Homo sapiens: one gene and its partners. The protein of the gene in region 2 purifies or fractionates together with the protein of the main gene of each other region. This does not show direct contact. Each region holds a gene or a part of one and is shown on either strand. Other genes may lie near its edges.

Evidence for each region. The genes of interacting proteins can lie anywhere in the genome.
Region 1: the proteins of TMEM70 (region 2) and ARMC6 purify together in Homo sapiens (co-immunoprecipitation; one large-scale study listed by IntAct). This does not show direct contact.
Region 3: the proteins of TMEM70 (region 2) and CPT2 purify together in Homo sapiens (affinity purification with mass spectrometry; one large-scale study listed by BioGRID and IntAct). This does not show direct contact.
Region 4: the proteins of TMEM70 (region 2) and MAEA purify together in Homo sapiens (affinity purification with mass spectrometry; 2 studies listed by BioGRID and IntAct, with this or other methods). This does not show direct contact.

What each region holds. Positions count from the first base shown.
Region 1 is NC_000019.10:19,036,603-19,040,102, forward strand, and holds part of ARMC6 (armadillo repeat-containing protein 6), read left to right. Parts: intron 1-3,500.
Region 2 is NC_000008.11:73,979,006-73,983,590, reverse strand, and holds the end of TMEM70 (transmembrane protein 70, mitochondrial), read right to left. Parts: intron 4,513-4,585; exon of another isoform or gene 4,420-4,512; intron 2,437-4,419; coding exon 1,970-2,436; 3' UTR 808-1,969; downstream 1-807. UniProt on the Homo sapiens protein: Scaffold protein that participates in the c-ring assembly of mitochondrial ATP synthase (F(1)F(0) ATP synthase or complex V) by facilitating the membrane insertion and oligomer formation of the subunit c/ATP5MC1 through its interaction.
Region 3 is NC_000001.11:53,203,324-53,206,823, forward strand, and holds part of CPT2 (carnitine O-palmitoyltransferase 2, mitochondrial isoform 1 precursor), read left to right. Parts: intron 1-3,500. UniProt on the Homo sapiens protein: Involved in the intramitochondrial synthesis of acylcarnitines from accumulated acyl-CoA metabolites.
Region 4 is NC_000004.12:1,292,891-1,296,390, reverse strand, and holds part of MAEA (E3 ubiquitin-protein transferase MAEA), read right to left. Parts: intron 1-3,500.

The DNA of each region.
Region 1 (3,500 bases), on a different chromosome or scaffold from region 2:
TTACTCTTCCTTCACCTTTAACCTTGGAAATCCATAGCAGCCCTTAAAGAGCTCCCTTTTCTTCTGGGGCAGAAAGGAGAGGGGCCTATCTGCAAAAGAGTGAGATGGGACTCCTGCATAAACTTGCTGAATTGCCTCTTAAGCAACAAAGGAAAGGAACAAATAGCTAATTTATTGAGCCTGTCCATATCCTGTTCTGAGGAAGGTATAGGAGTTGGCTGAATTTTTCACTACTGCCCTATGAAGTAGATTCGTGTTTATCTCTGTTTGACACATGAGGGAATTGAAGAAAAGTGTATCTGGCTGGGCGTGGTGGCTCATGCCTGTAATCCCAGCATGATGGGAGGCCGAGGCAGGTGGGTCACCTGAGGTCAGGAGTTCGAGACTAGCCTGGCCAACATGGTGAAACCCTGTCTCTACTAAAAATACGAAAATTAGCTGGGCGTGGTGGCGTGGGCCTGTAGTCTCAGCTACTTGGAGGCTGAGGCACAAGAATCGCTTGAACCCAGGAGGCAGAGGTTGTGGTGAGCCAAGATCGTGCCACTGCATTCCAACCTGGGCGACAGAGCGAGACTCTGTCTCAAAAAAAAAAGAAAAGGGCATTGAAGTGGAGGGCATGGGAACTGGGTTCTGCAGGCTGGCTGCGAGCCAGTCCTTCTCCCGTCAGGCAGTGTGCAGTCCATGGTGGGCATCTGCAGGAACACAGATGGAATGTGTATATCCCATGCCACTGCCTGAAAAGAGAAGCATGGGCCAGAGTGACCTGTTTCTTTTTCCTTTTTTTTTTTTTTTGAGACAAGGTCTTACTTTGTCACCCAGGCTGGAGTTCAGGGATATGATCTCAGCTCACTGCAGCCTTGACCTCCCTGGGCTCCCACCTCAGCCTCCCAAATAGCTGTAACTACAGGTGCATGCTCCCACACCTGGCTAATTTTGGTATTTTTTATAGAGATGGAGTTTCGCCACGTGTCCAGGCTGGTCTCAAACTCCTGGCCTCATGTGATCCTTCCGCCTCGGCCTCCCAAAGTGCAGGCCACCATGCCTGGCCTGAAGTGGAAACTTGATAATTCCAGAACGGAAACTTGATATTACTGCAATAAGCAAGGTGGATATATTGAAACAATTAAAATTTAAAAAGTTGTTAACCTCTGTTAGGCTCTGGACCTAAGGCCTGTTCCTCCTTTTGTTCCAAAGGGACGGTGGCAAATGTTAGGTTCACTCGTACCCTGTCAAGACCTTCTGGTTAAGATCATCTACAGCAGGGGTCCCCAATTCCTGGGTCACAGACCCATACTGGTCCAGTGGTCCCTGGCCTGTTAGGACCTGGGCTGCACAGCAGGAGGCAAGCGTAGGGTGAGCGAGTGAAGCTTCATCTGTATTTACAGCAACTCCCCATCACTTGCATTATGCCTGAGCTCTACCTCCTGTCAGATCAGCAGCATTAAATTATAGGAGCACGAACCCTACTGTGAACTGCACATGCAAGCGATTTAGGTTGGGCACTCCTTATGAAAATCTAATGCCTGATGATCTGTCACTATCTCCCATCACCCCCAGATGGGACTGTCTAGTTGCCAGACAACAAGCTCAGGGCTCCCACTGATCCTACATTACAGTGAATAGTATAATTATTATATTACAATGTAACAATAATAGAAATAAAGTGCACAATAAATGTAATGAGCTTGAACAATCCTGAAACCATCCCCACCCTAGCCCCACCATATCCATGGAAAAATTGTCTTCCACGAAACTGGTCCCTTAGGCTAAAAAGGTTGGGACTGCTGAGCTACAGGTTTGAAACAGAATTGCAAAGGGATTTGGTGTTTTTACCAAGAGTTTTATCTTACTTAACTCTATGTCTTGTTCCCACCTGTCAGAGTGGAAGGTACTGCCCAAGGTTAGTGGGTCATCTAAGTGTTGATACCTACCCCTGGTTTCCAGGGTATGCCTATACTGGGTTTTACTTGTTTGTTTATTTATTTATTTTTTGAGACGAAGTCTTGCTCTTGTTGCCCAGGCTGGAGTGCGATGGCGTGATCTTGTCTCACTGCAACCTCCACCTCCCTGGTTCAAGCCATTCTCCTGCCTCAGCCTCCCGAGTAGCTGGGATTACAGGCGCCCCACTAATTTTTGTATATTTAGTAGAGACGGGGTTTCGCCATGTTGGTCTTGAACTCCTGACCTCAGGTGATCTGCCTGCCTTGGCCTCCCAAAGTGCTGGTATTACAGGCATGAGCCACCATGCCTGGCCTTACTTGCTTATTTTTATTTTATAAGGTGGGTTTGTGTGTATACACACACACACACACACACACACACACATTTTTTTTAAGAGATATGGTCTCACTGTGTTGCCGCAGGCTGGTCTCAAACTCCTGTGCTTGAGTGATCCCCCCGCCTTAGCCTCCCAAGTTGCTGAGATTACAGGCACAAGTCATTGCTCAGTTCTTTTTGTTTTTAAACAGATTAGCACTTTAAGAAATTGAGCTATAATTTACATACCATAATATTCACTCATTTGATTTAGTAATTTTTTTTTTTCTTCTGGAGACATGGTCTCCCTCTGTCATCCAGACCGGAGTGCAGTGGCCCAGTCACAGCTCACTGCAGCCTTGAACTCCTGGGCTCAAATGATCCTCCTGCTTCAGCCTCCCGAGTAACTTCAACCACACGCAAATGCCACCACACCTGACTATATTTTTAAATTTTTTTGTAGAGACGGGGCCTTACTATGTTGTCCTTGCTGGTCTCAAACTCCAGACTTGAAACAGTCCTCCCACCTTGGCCTCCTAAAGCACTGGGATCACAGGTGTGAGCCACCATGCCTGGCCTGATGTAGTGATTTTACGTTTTCACAGAGTTGTACAACCATCATCACTATAATTCAAGAACGTTTTCATCACCCAGAAGGAAACCCTATACCCATTAGAAGTTACTCCCCATTCCCTCTCCTCCAGTCCCTGGCAACACCCAGTCTGCTTTTTGTGTCTGTGGATTTGCCTGTTCTGGATATTTCATGTCATTGGAATCGTGCAATATGAGGCTTTTCGTGTCTGGCTTCTTTGACGAGACATCATGTTTTTGAGGTCTATCTCCATTGTAGCATGCTTCAGCACCTCATTCCTTTCTCTGGCTGAGTAATATACCACCATGCGCACAGACCATTTTATCCATTCATCTGTTGGTAGACTCCGTCTCCTTTTCTTTGTTCTTGTGATTTATTTGTTGAAAACTCTGGGTGTTTGTCCTCTAGTTGACATTCTCTTCCCTAGTAGGGATTTTGCAGATCACATCCCCATGGTGTTGGTTAAGGTGTCAGAGCTGTGCTGTGCAATACCATAGTCACTCGTCACACATGGCTATTTACATTAACAAATTAAAATGAAATAAAATTACACACTCAGTTCCTCAGCCACACTGCCACACTTCAGCTGTGTGATAGCCACAGAGGCCAATGGCTTCTGTACTAGGCAGTGCAGATAGAGAACGTTTCATCA
Region 2 (4,585 bases):
TAACTTTCTATAGAAAGATATCTCTTATCTTAGGGGTGTCCAATCTTTTGGCTTCCCTGGGCCACGTTGGAAGAATTGTCTTGGGCCACACATAAAATATACTAATGATAGTGATGAGCTTAAAAAAAAAATCTCAAAAATAAAATTTAAGTTTACGAATTTGTGTTGGGCCACATTCAAAGCCGTCCTGGGCTGCAGGCTGGACAAGCTTCCCTTATCTAGTAGGTTGCTATGAAAAAAATAGAAACACATCTCTCATTCATTGCTAGGATACATCTAGGGGACAAAGGACAGAGAAGCAAGCAGGCAAAAACCCACCTTGAGCAGAAGATGGCACAGAGGAATGGCGGTGGGAATTCTCAGTCTGGTGAGCTGGACAATCCAAGCAGAGGGCAGGCTCTACGTCTCAGAAAGACAGCTTTTCTGTCTTATCTCCTATGAATAAGTTTCGAGCAGCCTGGGAGTTGAATGATCTCTTTGAACAGATGTTCCTGCTGCTTCCCCATCAACCTCCCTCATACACATGTACGCCATAAAGTTTAAATTTACTATCATGGTGGCCATAGACAATGTTAGGTAGCTCCATAAAGACAGACGGGGTGTTTCATTCTTAACTGTGATCTTAGTAACTAGCACAGTACTGGGCACTTAGTAAATATCTACTGATCTAAATAGTGTGGTTTGAGGCCTCTTGTTCCTGGCTAAAAATCCTTGGCAAGAGTCAATCTCCACTTTACAATAGAGGTAAAAATCTTACAATGGATATTCTTGACAAAGCTAGCATAGAGACAGCAATTTTACACAAGGTATTTTTCACCTGTTTAATAACAGTGGTTTTCCTACACCCATAGGGTGCCACCAAGGGAGGAGTGCACAGTTGCAGAAACAAATTAAGATACTGAAGACAACACTACTTACCATTTCCCGTATAGCTAACCACCAGTTCAACTGTACATGTATGTTCTTATGGGCAATCATGCCAGGGGTTAGGCAAAAACCTGTGTTCTGAACCAAAGAAGACTTAAAACTGCTCCCATAATTTGTGAATTTCTTGAAATTTTGCGGTTTTTTGAAAATTTTTTAACAACTGGTAATCAATTTATGAAAACAGTTGACTTAAGCATTTGCAATGGTGACTTCCATCTCAACTCCTGGCTCAATACTGATGGAAGTAATCTGCTTAACTATCTGAGGACTGCGCAAGTCAATGAGTCGCTTGTGGATTCTCATCTGGAAACGATCCCATGCCTTAGAACCTTCACCGTAAGTTTTTCTTGTAGTGATTCTCAAAGTCTTGGTAGGCATTCAAACTGGTCCTTTCACTGATTCTTTTCCTTTGCTCCTCAGATCAAGTCAGCACACACCTTATCCAGGGATTTTACGTTGCAACTCGTTAGAGTGATATGAATTCGGTGAATTGCCACCTCTGACTCCACGGGTGTTTTTCTGGTATGTTTAAAAGCCATGGCTGCTGCAAGGCTTCCTAGCCAGCTTCCTGACAGACTTGGTCCTCAGGCAACAGCAAAGAGCAGTGAGTCAGGAGCAGGAGCAGGTGGACCACAGCTCCGCACCACCTATGACTGTGTCTTCCTCAAAGAGAAAATGTCTTTTAATGTCGGAAAATATTTATACACTTAGAAAAATCCATACACAAAGAATAAAGCAACTCTCCCATTTGCTACTGACATCAGATCCCCAGTTTAGAGTCAACCACAGTAACACAGAACTCTTATACTAGCATGAACATATTTATTCACATACCTTTCTAAAACACGAATGGTAGATACTACATTTTGGTTTTCAAACATAGCTTGTTTTATTATAAACAAACATCATTCTCTGGAAATTAAAAGCTTTGATAATTTCAAATTATTTTTAACAATCAGTCACTAACGGAATGCAAAAGGCAATTTTATTATTATACATTAAAACGTAAATCACATTTGAGCACGAACACTAACAAATAGGCTCATTTGTCATCTTTATGCCGTTTCTCTTCACTGGTTTCTTCCATATACAAAATAAATTCTTCTTTGTCATAACCCATTAGATGGATATAGTCTTCACGGTTTGGAAAGAGCACTGGATTAACTAACAGTGATTTTGTTTTAGCATAAAATGTGGTAAATACATGTTTAGCATCTGGAATCTTCACATCATTCTGGTGAAACACTGTACTCGTTTCTGCAAGCATAGCATTGTAGGTAATGGCTTTATAAGTGTCTGTTGTGGCCTCATGGTACAATCGAATGACATAGCCTTTTGTAATAAAGTGAAGCAGCACTGGGGTGATCACCGTAAAGCTTCCCATGATGCCATAGAATATGATTTGAATAGGCAGAGGCACACTTTCAGAAATAGCATTATTTTGTGTAAAAATGTATGGCAGAAATGTAAGGCCAATCAGACTCGTAGAATAAGAGAAACATTTCACACCTAAATGGGAAAAAAAGAGAGAGGATCAATACTTTTAAATTTTATAAAAGAATCAATCTATCCCACTAATTCTTCCATTTTTCTTCTTACTGTATCAGCTCAAGACAACAAAATCAAACCATAAATACAGTGCTTATTATATTCTAAGCTCTGTTTTAAGGACTTTACATATTTTGACTTCAATGTCCCTGCTACTGACCATTAGAATGCACTGCCTCTCCAGGCAGGAAATCTGCTTTAGGGTTTAAGTGGCCCTACCTCAGTTCCACAATAAAGTAGTTAATATTACTTAAAGATCCTTACTAATATTGTACTACAAAAGTTGATTCAGATAGCAGATTATCAAACAAAACTCTCTATTAACAAGCACTCCAGTATATCTAACATAAAATATTCAAACATGGGAAATTCTATCAGGCTAAGTGCCCAGGATTAAAACAGCAAATCACCAGAGAAATAAAACCAGTGGTTAAAAAACATATCGGACGGCCAGGCGCATTGGCTCATGCCTGTAATCCCAGCACTTTGGGAGGCTGAGGCAGGTGGGTCATTTGAGGTTAGGAGTTCGAGACCAGCCTGGCCAACATGGTGAAACTCCCATCTCTACTAACAATACAAAAATTAGCTGGGCATGGTGGCAAGTGCTTGTAATCCCAGCTATTCAGGAGGCTGAGGCAGGAAAATCCTTGAACCCAGGAGGTAGAGGCTGCAGTGAGCCAAGACTGCACACTGCACTCCAGCTTGGGAGACAAAGCGAGACTCCATCTCAAAAAAAAAAAACAGAAACATATGGGAAAGGTATTCAATTTCTTTAGTAAGGAAAGACATTCAAGTTAAAACAATGAGATAAGCAGCCTGGCCAGCATGGCGAAATCCTGTCTCTACTAAAAATACAAAAATTAGCCAGGCTTGGTGGCATGCACCTATAATCCCAGCTACTGGGGGTGCTGAGGCAGGAGAATTGCTTGAACCTGGGAGGTGGAGGTTGCAGTGAGCCCAGATTGTGCCACTGCACTCCAGCCTGGGCAACAAGAGCAAAACTCCGTCTCAATAAATAAATAATAAAAAATACAAAAAAAACACTGAGATACCATTTTTACCTATTACCTTAGAAAGATTAAAAATAAATGACTTCTAGCAGAGTGCAGTGGCTCATGCCTGTAATCTCAGCACTTTGGAAGGTGTAGGCAGAAGGACTGCTTGAGACCAGTTTGAGACCAGCCTAGGCACCATAGGAAGACCTGTCTCTACAAAAAAAATTTTTTTTAATTAGCCAAGGCTGGTCTGATGGTAATGAGTTATCAGAACTTAACACTGGCATCACTAAAGTTGGTATACAATGTCCCCACTGCTAAATTTGACTAGCTTAAAAAAAAAAAAATCAGCCAGGTGTAGTGGCACATGTCTGTAGTCCTAGCTATTTGGGAGGCTGAGGTGGGAGGATCACTCGAGCCCACAAGTTTGAAGTTGCAGTGAACTATGATCACACCACTGCACTCCAGCCTAGATGACAGAGACCCTGTCTCTAAAAAATAAAAATTATTTTTAAAAAATGGCTTCTAAACTGTATACTTCAAAATGATTAAAGTGAAAAATTTTATGTTTATCTAACCACAATAAAAAATGACTTAAAATGTAAATTTACCTTACCTTTAATTTATAATTTTAATACGATCCTAATAAAAAATACCATCTGTTTGGAAAATAAAGTTGAGATCCTAAACAAGTTGATTATAAAGTTTATTTGGAAAAACAAAAGCAGCAAAAAATAAAAAAATAAAGCAATGAGGGGAAGTTACCCCTTCGAAATATTAAAACATAATAGAGGCCGGGCGTGGTGGCTCACGCCTGTAATCCCAATACTTTGGGAGGCCGAGGTGGGTGGGTTACTTGAAGTGAGGAGTTCAAGACCAGCCTGACCAACATGGTGAAACCCTGTCTCTACTAAAAATACAAAAATTGGCCAAGTGTGGTGGTGCATACCTGTAATCCCAGCAGGAGGCTGAGCCAGGAGAATCGCTTGAACATGGGAGGCGAAGAGTATGGTGAACCAAGATCATGCCACTGCACTCCAGCCTGGACAACAGAGTGAGACTCTGTCTCAAATAAAAATCTAAAAATGCAAAGGTCTCTACATCTTATCAACACA
Region 3 (3,500 bases), on a different chromosome or scaffold from region 2:
ATAGGGATTTGTAATTTTGGGTAACTCAGTATCTAGTTTTATGCTATTATGATCATAGAAACACTATTGTCAGCTGACTCATGTAGCATATTGGGATTGTTTTTCCTTTCCAGTACAAACTTTTTGTTTTCTCTGAAGTTAATAATTGTTCCATCTTTTCTCTTGTTTAGTTTTCTATGTGCTTACTAATTTACCCCCAGACTCTTCCCAAGCTGTCTGAATCTCCTCTCAATACATGAAAGCAGATTGGACATTCTATCCCTTTTGGTCTTCTTGACGAAACTTCTTCCAGAACTTGCGACATGCTGTAGTCTGGATTTGTGAACCTCTTGGCCTACTGTGAAGCTGCTCTCCTGTGCTCTTTCACCATCAGCTGGGGCATCTGTCATCTCTCTCTCATGTTGGGACTCGTGTTTCTTGTCTTTCATATTTTCTTATTTCTTGGCTTTTTCTTTTTCTTTTTTTTTTTTTTTAAATCAGAGCACATATTCCCTGTACTATCTGGAAACAGAATATGGGAAGCAAAAATTTTAAAATGGCCCTTATACTTCATTGATAATTTGTTTGGCTGGGTTTGAAATTATTTTCCCACAGAATTTTGGAGGCTTTGCTCCATTGTCTTTTAGCATCCAGTGTTGCTGTTGGTAAATCTAATGTTATTCTGAGACTTAATCTTTTGACTACTTCTTCTCTCTGCCTTTGGAAGCTTTTTAGAATTTTCTCTTTGTCCCCAGTGTTTTGAAATTTCAGGTAATGTGTTTTAGTATGTGTTGGGCCACTCTGTGAGTCCTTTGAATCTGGAATCTCATCCTTCAGGTCTGGGATATTTCCTTGTTTTATTTCTTTGGCTTTCTTCCTCTCCATTTTTTTTCTCTGTTTTTTCTTTGTGGAACTCTATTATTATTCAGGTGTAGAATTTCTGGGTCTCATCCTCTAATTTTCTTTTCTCTCACATTTTTCATCTCTTACTCTTTTTGTTACATTTTCTTGGGAGACTTACTTAATTTTAATCTCTCAACCTGTTTTTAAAACTCCTGCTTTCCTATTTTTTACTTCCACAAGCTCTTTTTTCTTCTTATGGTGTTCTTTTTAAAAATAGTTTATCTCTGATAATTTTTTTTTAAGATCTCTTCTCTCTTCATAGTCTGTTGCCTCCAAGTTGCTTTTCTTCTGTTTGCTTTGCCCTTTTCTTTCTTCAGATGCTTCATAATCCTGTGTTGTCTTCGATATGAGTGAGATATTAAAAAGCTCTTGGAAGCTATGTGGATGGGGGTGAGGCTTGTCAGTTACAGGCTTTGCTCTAATGTGATTGATATGGTTTGGCTCTATGTCCCCACCCAAATCTCATCTTGAATTGTAATCCCCACGTGTTGAAGGAGGGACCTGGAGGGAGGTGATTGGATCATGGGGGCAGTTTTCCCCATGCTGTTCTCATGATAGTTAGTGGTTTCTCACGAGCTCTGATAGTTAAAAAGTGTTCAGCAGTTCCCCCACTTGTTCGCTTTCTCTCCTGCTGCCACATAAGATGTGCCTTGCTTCCCCTTCACCTTGCGCTGTGATTGTAAGTTTCCTGAGGCCTCCCCAGCCACAAGGAACTGTCAGTCAATTAGACCTCTTTTCTTTATAAATTACCCAGTCTCAGGTGGTTCTTTATAGCAGTGTGAAAATGGACTAATATAGAAAACTGGTACCAGGAGGGGGGCATTGCTACAAAGATACCTGAAAATGTGGAAACAACTTTGGAACTGGTTAATAGGCAGAGGTTGGAACAGTTTGGAGGGGTCAGAAGAAGACAGGAAGATGTCAGACAGTTTGGAACTTCTTAGAGAGTTGAATGGTTTTGACCAAAATGCTGATAGAGATATGGACAATGAAGTCCAGGCTGAGGTGGTCTCAGATGGAGATGAGGAACTTATTGGGAACTGGAGCAAAGGTCACTCTACTGTGCTTTAGCAGAGAGACTGGTGGCATTTTGTCCCTGTCCTAGAGATCTGCAGAACTTTGAACTTGAGAGGGGTGATTTAGGGTGTCTGACAGAAGAAACTTCTAAGCAACAAAGCATTCAAGATGGCTTTTTCTGAAAGCATATGGTCATATGCATTCACAGAGAGATGATGTGAAAGTGGGACTTATGTTTAAAAGGGAAGCAGAGCATAAAAGTTTGGACAATTTGCAGCCTGACCATGCAGTAGAAAAGAAAAACCCATTTTCTGGGGAGAAATTCAAGCCACAAGCTGCAGAAATTTGCATAAGTAATGAGAAGCCAAATGTTAATAGCCAAGACAATGGGGAGAATGTCTTGAGGGCATTTCAGAGATCTTTACAGTAGCCCCTCCCAGCATAGGCCCAGAGGCCTAAGAGGGAAAAATGGTTTCCTGGGCCCTGCTGTTCTGTGCAGCCTCGGGACATGGTGCCCTGTGTCCCAGGCACTCCAGCTCCAGCCATGGCTAAAAGGGGCCAAGGCACAGCTCTGGCCATTGCTTCAGAGGGTGCAAGCCCCAAGCATTGGAGGCTTCCCCATGGTGTTGGGCATGCAGGTGTGCAGAAAACAAGAGTTGAGGTTTGAAAACCTCGTCCGGCCGGGTGCGGTGGCTCACGCCTGTAATCCCAGCACTTTGGGAGGCCAAGGCGGGTGGATCACAAGGTCAGGAGATCGAGACCATCCTGGCTAACATGGTGAAACCCTGTCTGTATTAAAAATACAAAAAAAATTAGCCGGGTGTGGTGGCGTGCACCTGTGTCCCAGCTGCTGGGGAGGCTGAGGCAGGAGAATAGCGTGAACCCAGGAGGCAGAGCTTGCAGTGAGCCAAGATAGCACCACTGCACTCCAGTCTGGGTGACAGAGCAAGACTCCATTTCAAAAAAAAAAAAAAAAAAAAAGAGACAACCTCCTCCTACATTTCAGAGGCTATATGGAAACACCTGGATGTCCAGGCAGAAGTCTGCTGCAGGGGTGAAGCCCTCATGGAGATCCTCTACTAGGGCAATGCAGATGGGAAATATGGGGTTAGAGCCCCCACACAGAGTTCCCAATGGGGAGCCTAGTGGAACTGTGAGAAGAGGGCCACTGCCCTTCAGACCCCAGAATGGTAGATCCACCGACAGTTTGCACCATGTGCCTGGAAAAGCCACAGGCATTCAATGCCAGCCTGTAAAAGCAACCATGGGGCTGTACTCTGCAGAGCCACAGGGGCAGGGCTACCAAAGGCCTTGGGAGCCCACTTCTTACATCAGCATGCCCTGGATGTGAGACATGGAGTCAAAGATTATTTTGGAGCTTTAAGATTTAATGGCTGCCCTGCTGGATTTCAGGCTTGCGTGGGGCCTGTAGCCCCTCTGTTTTGGCCAATTTCTCCCTTTTGGAATGGGAGCATTTACCCAATGCTTGTAACACCAGTGTATCTTGAAAATAACTAATTGGTTTTTGATTTTACAGACTCATAGGCAGAAGGAACTTGCCTTTACTCAGATGAGACTTTGGCTTGTAATTTTGAGTTAAT
Region 4 (3,500 bases), on a different chromosome or scaffold from region 2:
GCTGCACAGGCACAGGTGAGGGGGGCACAGGTGCGGGTGGGGGGGCACAGGTGAGGGTAGCATAGGTGAGGTGCAGATGTAGGTGGGGGGCGCACGTGAAGGTGGTGCAGGAGCAGGTGAGGGAGGAGCAGGTGAGGGAGGAGCAGGTGAGGGGGGCACAGGCACAGGTGGGGGGCACAGGTGAGGGCAGCACAGGTGAGGGCAGTGCAGACGTGGGTGAGGGGGGCACAGGTGCGGGTGGGGGGGCACAGGTGAGGGTAGCATAGGTGAGGTGCAGATGTAGGTGGGGGGCGCACGTGAAGGTGGTGCAGGAGCAGGTGAGGGAGGAGCAGGTGAGGGAGGAGCAGGTGAGGGGGGCACAGGCACAGGTGGGGGGCACAGGTGAGGGCAGCACAGGTGAGGGCAGTGCAGACGTGGGTGAGGGGGGCACAGGTGCGGGCGAGGGTGGCACAGGTGTGGGTGAGGGGGTGCAGGTGAAGGCAGCACAGGTGAGGGCGGTGCAGACACAGGTGAAGGGGCAAAGGCGCAGGTGTGGTGGGCACCGGCATGGGTGAGGAGGGCACAGGCGTGGGTGAGGGGGCACAGGCGCTGGGGAGGGGGGCACAGGCGCGGGTGAGGGGGGCAGAGGCACGGGTGAGGGGGCACAGGCGCGGGTGAGGGGGTACAGGAGCGGGTGAGGGGGGTACAGGTGTGGGTGAGGGGGTATAGGAGCGGGTGAGGGGGTACAGGAGCGGGTGAGGGGGGTACAGGTACGGGTGATGGGGCTCATCCACCACGGGTGTGGGAGCAGGTGCAGGTCAGGCAGGGTCTGCGTGACAGGCATGGGCGAGCATGAAGTAGGAGGGAAAGTCTGAGAGAAGGACAGGTATGAAAGGCTCGCCTGGGAGGAGAGGAAGGAGGCTGCTCTGGGCCCCTCCCTCGAGTGGGGCAGCACTCAGGGTCCCGGTCCGGGTCCACAGTCAGCCATCAGCACAGCAGGTGCTTTCTTCTGCTCAGCCACATTCAGCTCAACAGTCACTAAATGTGGTATTAACACAGTGAATAATTCTTTTTGTTCAGGTTTTCAAAATAATGGCCCCTAGCTATAACGATTCTGAAATAACAGACCTAAAAATCATCAGCAGTTACCCCGGCAGGAAGTGTGCTTTGCGATGCCTGGGTCAGCACCCAGACATCCCCACTCGGCCTGAAGCCCCCAGAGGGTGGGGCTCGCAGCACAGCCTCTCTGCAGACGGGGCAGTCACATGCTACAGGCACCGGCCGGCCTTGTCTTCATTCTGGTGCCAATGTGTCTCCTTGGGCTTGCTTCCCATTCTGCTGACCCCTGTACCCACAGACCGAGTCACTGCCCAGCACCCAGTCTCACTGTGAGACCCTCCCTGCACAGCTCTGGGACACCCCCAGCCACATCACCCCAATGGTGCTGTGTGCCTGTGTGCCTACTGGGGTGAGAGCCGGCCAGGACTTCAACACGGTCCACAGAGCCTCACCCCAAAACTTAGCTCCGCCAACCAGCTCACAATATCGCATTCACTGGAGGAAGCTCATCCCCACCCCCGCCCCTGCCCCTGCCCCTGCCCCCGGCCCCACCCCCGTCCCCTGCCACTGTCCAACATCACCTCAACCTCATCAGCGTCTTTAAAGGATCTGAGATGTCTGTGTGTGCTTGTGCTGATGCCTCCCTCCCACCGGAGCGTAGACAGGGGCCTCACTTGTCTCCCCATCATGCTAGCCCAGGGCCTGACTGTGCAGGGCCTGACCGTACCTGGCCGATGGAGGCTCTCAGACCACTGCTGCGGAGGGGGGTATGGGAGAAGCTAAGTGCACCTGCAGCCCTGCTCTGCAGCCCGGCGGCGGTGCCTTGCTTAGGTCCCAGGGCCGCTCCAGGCCTCACGTCAGTACTGCCTCCAACCTAGCCCAGCCATTACGGTGAATCAGGCATTAAAAAGCACTTTCTTGACTTGAAATGTGTTAAAAAAATAATACTTAAAAAAACAAAAACAAAACCAACCCCCCAGCTAGCAGTGAATTCAAGTCTACATCCTTATCTCAGCCTTGCCCAACCAGCTGGAAAGGCCCAGGCCTGGGAGGGAAGACCTGTGCCAGCGCGGAGGCCGCGGAAGCCAGCCCAGGGCCAAACCACCAGCAAACGGTGGGAGAGGCGAGGGGAGTGGAGCTGGGAGCCACAAAGGGCAGACCATGGCTCTTCTGGGCAGAAGGAATTTCCACTGTGCTCTAGAGACCGGGCGGATTCTGGAGGGCTGTGACGTTACTGCAGATAAAGTACATCGAAAAAGCCGGCCACAGAAGAGGTGGAGACCCGGCCTAAGACTCCTCAGACACGGCATCACCAGGGTCCAACCCAATGTGTGTGTCAGTAAGTCAAACGCTTCGTGGTTGCCTGTGTTTCTCACACTCGAGAACACATGATCCTCCCAAATCCAGCCAAGATGGAGTGAAGAAAACTACAAAAGGCGCAGGAGCAGTTACAACTTCAGCACACAGCTGGCACCCGAACTCCCTACCACAGGCACAGACCCAGGCTGTGAGGCATCAGGGCCATGCCTGGGCAACCAGACTGTCATCAAACCAAAGGCAGAACATGCAAATCTTCCTGTAGAGAATTCAGACACCTGAGAATGCAACCACAAGCCCGGTGTTTCTCAGCCTGTCCTCTGGGGAGAGGACAGCATCACCACCTTGGGTGTGAGAGGACTCACTGGAGCTGGGAACCCTTGCTGGGGCTCCAGGAGAGGAGAGGTGGGCCCAGGTGGGGTTCACAGAGAGGAGCCAGGTCCAGACCAGGGTCTCCAGGTGATGAACACCACTTCCCGCCCTGGGCTGTGCAGACACCCATGTGAAATTCTCTAAACTATTATTTTTCTTCGGCTATCTGAAGGGAAATAGTAGGAGTAAATACACCAAAATGTTAATGAAGTTCTCTCTGTGCAGCAGGGTAACTTGAAGAAAAAACAAATTACTTTTATTTATTTATTATTTGAGACAGGGTCTCACTCTGTCACCCAGGCTGGAGGGCAGTGGTGCAATCTCGGTTCACCACAGCCTGGATCTCCTGGCTCAAGTGATCCTCTCGCCTCAGCCTCCCAATTAGCTGGGACTACAGGCGCACACCACCGCACCCAACTCATCAAATTACTTTTATAATCAGAAAAAAAAAAACCTTTTACAAAATAATGAAAGCAAGGGCTTCCAATTCAAGATGGTGAACTATGCATGTTGAATTGAAAGATGGTGAATTCCTGAGGTCAGGAGTTCAAGACCAGCTGGACAACATGGAGAAACCACGTCTCTACTAAAAAATACAAAAAATTAGCTGGGCATGGTGGCGGGTGCCTGTAATCTCAGCTACTCGGGAGGCTGAGGTAGGAGAATTGCTTGAATCTGGGAGGCAGAGGTTGCAGTGAGCTGAGATTGTGCCACCGCGCTCCAGCCTGGGCAACAGAGTGAGACTCCGTCTCAAAAAAGAAAAAAAAAAAAAA